2 separate regions of the Homo sapiens genome follow, and region 2 is linked to region 1. Evidence: fine-mapped expression QTL. Tissue or cell type: lung. Region 1 holds a variant in brackets; the other region holds the start of a gene. All regions are shown on one strand. Distances are between the middles of the regions.

Region 1 (2,500 bases):
AGCCTTAAGTCTTTTTTTTTTTCTTTAAAGAAGACTAGCAAGTAACTTTCCGTTTCTGTTGTAGTCTGTGCACTTCCAGACAATATTTGCTGCTGCTCAAATGATTGGTTGGTATGACCCTAAAGTAACTCGAGTCTTCCATGCTGGATTTGGTGTGGTGCTAGGGGAAGACAAGTAAGTCTGGAAAATCTGAAGATGGTAATGATATACTTGATCCCAAGAGGCTACTTTTCATTTGATACCATATTAGAATTAAGAAAGTCCACAGTTTCCTTTAGTCCACATAAGCTATAATGGTGTAAACCCAGCTGAGTGATTTTGTATCTATATCATCACTGCCAGGGAATGTAGCCTTTTAGGTAGATAGTATGTACAAAGTTTAGTGAAAACCAGACTGTAGACCTAATAGATTATATATAAGGGGTTTCCTCTCCCACAAATCTAAATTATAAAATCTATTACAGTACCTGCTCAGATTTCAGACACTATTCAACAATATAGCTTATGCATTTGATAAATGTTTTTGTTTTTTCCTTCAAAGTTGAACATAGGCAAAAGGTATAAGTTATTGAGATTCCAATTAAGTTTTAAGATTCACTGGTTTTGTTATGTTCTCTCCAAAAATATTGTTTATTGAGAACTATGTATTTTAATATTCATACTTTCAGCTTTTCTATTTTCTAATTTTTTTATATTCTCAATATTTATAAAATAAAAAGGTAAATACAACCGTGTTTCCATACAGTATTCCTCAATTCAAAGGCACAGCATTTTTCATGTTGTAACCTCCTGTATTCACTGGTGTCTTAGGATCACTTACCAAAAATCTGTGGCATCTTAGATTTGGTAACAAAGCCTAAATATTTCCATCCTACAAACGTGGTCATGCTTCTAAAAAACCACATGAAGTAGCTCAAGATGTTTGGCCAGCCAATGCGCAGAAGCCCTAATTGAACATGTAAAAGGCAGATGAGATGTGTTAAGGTATTATCTTAGATACAGATTATGTGGAGCTCAAAGACCTTGTTGGGAACAACATTTTCTAATTGCGTTTCTTCTCCGTGGATCTGCGCTTTTTTGAAATCAAAAGACACTAGGGGCTAGGCAAAGTGGCTCTCACGCCTGTAATTCCAGCACTTTAGGAAGCCAATGCTGGAGGATTGTGTGAGCCTAGGAGTTTAAGACCAAACTGGGCAAC[A/G]TGGTGAAACCCCATATCTGCCAAAAAAAAAAAAAAAAACTTAGCCAGGCATAGTGGCATGCACCTGTAATCCCAGCTAAGGATTACTTGAGCATCGACGTGGAAGTTACAGTGAGGCGAGATCATATCACTGGGCTCCAGCCTGGGTGACAGAGTGAGACTGTGTCTCAAAAACAAAAAGAATAACTAAGAAGACACTAAGTCCTTATTATAGTGTTTATGGACATAAAGTTTTTTAAAACAAACCAGTAAGTTGATCATTACTTAATAGTATCTTAGTTTCTTAACGGTTGGTTTTTTGGACATTTAGATGATATTCTGACACTTGCTTAAAATTACTAGTGCTCCTATTATGGCATTTAATTCACTTGTCATATAATGGCTAAAGGATTCTTGATAATTTTTAAAATTTTTCTGCACTCAGCAGCATGTAGTTATAGTATCCTATCCCACCCGCCTTTTTTTTTTTTATTTTTTAAATTTTGGGCCAGGCACAGTGTCTCACACCTGTAATCCCAGCACTTTGGGAGGCCGAGGCAGGTGGATCACGAGGTGAGGATTTGAGACCAGCCTGGCCAACATGGTGAAACCCCGTCTCTACTAAAAGTACAAAAATTAGTTGGGCGTGGTGGTGGGCGCCTGTAGTCCCAGTTACTCGGGAGGCTGAGGCAGGAGAATGGTGTAAACCCGGGAGGCGGAGCTTGCAGTGAGCTGAGATTGTGCTACTGCACTCCAGCGTGGGCGACAGAGCAAGACTCTGTCTCAAAAAAAAAAAAAAAAAAAAAAAAATTCTCACAGAGGGGGATGGGACTTAAGAAAAAGGTTTGTTTTCTTTAATGCTCACAGATTCTATTTTTAAATGACATTTTCTGTTTTAATTTTTTGAATGATAATTTTTTTTTAATTTCATCATCTTCCTGCTATTCCTTGTACATCTGTTTATTGAGGATGTGCTGTGCATGGTGTTGGTTGGATGCTCCACAATGTGTATATGCAGGTACACGGAACATGAGCTCCTCTCTGAAAGAGGCTATCATCTAGAGCAGAGCAGTTTCCTGTGGAGCTTGTGAAAATACACATGCAAGCCCCACTGTGGGAGTTACTGACTTATTAGGTCTAAAGGGGGTATTAGGCATCTGTTTTTTTTTTAAAGCTCTCGGTATTCAGATACGCATCCCTCATTGTAGAGCCACTAGTCAGAATAGACCAACACAAAAACAAAAATTCATGGCAGGCGCAGGTAGGGAGTAACTGAAAGGAACAGTAATTGCAAAGTAGATTAAGGAAGGTTTCCTTTAGCAT
Region 2 (3,020 bases), 22 kb after region 1:
GAAAGAGCTGATGTGCCAGTTGAAAGGCCCTTGGGCAGGAGAATTCTCTCTTCCGTGGGGAAGGTCAGCATTTTGCTTTATTTCTGCCTTCAACTGATTAGATGAGGCCCAGCCACATCGTAGACGGCAATCAGCTTTACTCAATATACCAATTTAAATGTTAATCTCATCAAAAAACACCCTCACAGAAACACTCAGAATACTATTTGACCAAATATCTGGGCATCCCATGGCCCAGTAAAGTTGACACATAAAATTAACCCTCACAGACACCAAGTGTAGTTCATCATTTTGGAAAATATTCACCTTATAGCAAGAATGGAAACCTCTAAGTAGAGTATTTTATGTGAACCATTCAACCTCAGGAATCATACATTTCACTCACTGATCCCTTGTTCACATTCCAGTGTATAAAACTCTGGTCCCCATTAAGGAGACACTCCAGTCCTCAGGGAAAATCAGACCTGGCACTGTCGTCCATGAGTATGAGACGGGAAGAGCTGTGGTCCAGGATGGAACGGAAGTCATACTGCACATACCAGGTGTTCAGTAAATGCTCCGATCTTCAGGTGCGCGTTGTCTCTCTCTCTCTCTCTCTCGAGTAGACACTTAATTCAACTAACGGGAGGCTGGCCAGTTGTTTCACCACCTATCCTACTTTCCCCAGCTCTTGTGTGGTTCCCAAAGCCCCTAGCAGTAGCCAAAACGGGGGCCCCAACTGCTGTCGCTGTCCCTGGTGCTGACTAAACCCTAAAGCCTCTGCGTTGCGGCCTTGGGGCCATTGGTGGTGCCGAGTTATTCTTTTATTTTCTTTCTGTTCTTTTCTTTTTTTCTTTTCTTCTCGTTGCTGCCCTTGGTGCTGCCCAATTATTCTTTTCTTTTCTTCTCCTCTCCCTCTCTCTCTTTTCTTTCTCTCTCTTTCTTTCTTTTTCTCTTTTTCTTTCTTTCCTCAAGAAAATGCTGCAGATTTAGAGAGTGACTTTGAAGCATAGACTAGACTTCGAGGATGAACATGACATTTTGGCTCTCTGTGTATCCCCATTCACACTGAAGAATCAACAACACTTCCTTGCTGATCAATAGTCCCAGAACTGGTGGCACAGCCAGGACCGACGCTGATGCTTACCTCCCCCTCTCCTGCAGCAGAGACGCCCCCGTCCCTGTGGCCCAGGGAAGTGCCAGGGATCCCTGGGAAGGCGGGAGATGGGGAAGGGGCAGGGTGAGCGAAGAGGAGCAGGCTGCGTCTGCACGCGGGCTGGGAAGCGGGGCTTCCGGGCCGCAGGGTCGCGGGGACGGGTGTGATGCAATCGCGCCACAGCCGCTGCGTCAAGGGGCGGCTCCGGGATGCGGGCACTGCGGTAGAGCCCGTCCTGCCCCCGCCGCCCGCCGCCCGCCGCCCGCCTCCGCTGCTAAACCCGCGGACAACCGCCGGGACGACCACCCAGAGCCACCAGAGCCCCCTGACACCCGCCCCGAGGCACCGGTAACCCACGGCACCCGCCCCGGTGCGTGCCATGAAGTCGGCCGCGAGCTCGCGCGGGGGCGGTGGGGGCGGCCGCGGGGGCGGCGGCTGGGGCAGCTGGGGCGGGGGCCGAGGCGGCGGCGGCGGCGCGGGCAAGGGCGGCGGGGGCGACGGCGGCGGCCAGGGGGGCAAGGGCGGCTTCGGGGCGCGGGCGCGCGGCTTCGGCGGGGGCGGCCGGGGCCGGGGGCGCGGCGGCGGCGACGGCAAGGATCGCGGCGGCGGTGGACAGCGGCGGGGCGGCGTGGCCAAGAGCAAGAGCCGCCGCAGGAAGGGCGCCATGGTGGTGTCGGTGGAGCCGCACCGGCACGAGGGCGTCTTCATCTACCGCGGGGCGGAGGACGCGCTGGTCACGCTGAACATGGTGCCGGGCCAGTCTGTGTACGGCGAGAGGCGCGTCACGGTGACCGAGGGCGGCGTGAAGCAGGAGTACCGCACGTGGAACCCGTTCCGCTCTAAGCTGGCCGCGGCCATCCTGGGCGGGGTGGACCAGATCCACATCAAGCCCAAGTCCAAGGTGCTGTACCTGGGCGCCGCGTCGGGCACCACCGTCTCCCATGTCTCCGACATCATTGGCCCAGACGGCCTGGTCTACGCCGTCGAGTTCTCCCACCGCGCCGGCCGCGATCTGGTCAACGTGGCCAAGAAGCGCACCAACATCATTCCGGTCCTGGAGGACGCGCGGCACCCGCTCAAGTACCGCATGCTCATCGGGATGGTGGACGTGATCTTCGCCGACGTGGCCCAGCCGGACCAGTCCCGCATCGTGGCCCTGAACGCCCACACCTTCCTGCGCAATGGGGGCCACTTTCTCATCTCCATCAAGGCCAACTGCATCGACTCCACCGCATCCGCCGAGGCTGTGTTTGCTTCTGAGGTGAGGAAGTTGCAGCAGGAGAACTTGAAGCCTCAAGAGCAGCTGACCCTGGAGCCCTATGAGCGGGACCACGCTGTGGTGGTCGGGGTCTACCGACCTCTTCCCAAGAGCAGCAGCAAATAGCACCCAGCTCAGGCTCGCCTGCCATCTCCCCAAGGCTGCGTTGTGTTTGCTATTATTTTCTGTGTGTTTTCTTTGTGAGTGTTTTGTTTTGTTGTTTTTCTATTAAACTGCATAAAGAAACGGCACCTATCTGTATGGTGATGCCAGGCTAGGTTTTGCTGCAGTAACAATCAACCCCCAAATCCCAGTGGCCTAAACCGGCTGGTATAAGGGGCCCATCCAGCAGTAGCCTGGGAGCTGTGCTCATTCTAATCACTCAGGTCTCCAACTCCCCAGGGCCCCATTTTCACACATGCTCCCCCCATCCCTAGGGCAGAGGAAAGAGAGCTGCGGAATTGCTAATAAAAGCTTTTAAATGTCCCCTTGGAACTGATGGGGCACTTCTGCTCACATTTGGCCAAGTCACATGACCCAGCCTGACTCGGGAAAAACACTGAATGTTGGTGGACAATAATATAGTCAAACACACCAATCATCTGACTCACAGCCAAAGTCTTAACC

What was found. PIP is the estimated chance that this variant, and not a neighbour inherited with it, causes the effect.
Region 2: FBLL1 starts here. The variant in region 1 is the best candidate, but not a certain one, in a credible set for the expression of FBLL1 in lung (GTEx, PIP 0.53).

The regions. Positions count from the first base shown.
Region 1 is chr5:168,506,658-168,509,157 of GRCh38, forward strand. It overlaps RARS1 (arginyl-tRNA synthetase 1), which reads left to right. Exons shown (of 15, transcript NM_002887.4): 11 at 65-174. Among named protein-coding and RNA genes, the nearest start is that of FBLL1, 21 kb to the right of the region's middle. RefSeq lists an enhancer at 1,282-1,451. The variant A/G (reference allele first, on the strand shown) is at 1,199.
Region 2 is chr5:168,527,991-168,531,010 of GRCh38, forward strand. It overlaps FBLL1 (fibrillarin like 1), which reads left to right and starts at 1,315. Exons shown (of 1, transcript NM_001355274.2): 1 at 1,315-2,644. The coding sequence starts at 1,515. The coding sequence ends at 2,519. RefSeq lists a silencer at 474-768 and enhancers at 1,622-2,163, 3,019-3,020.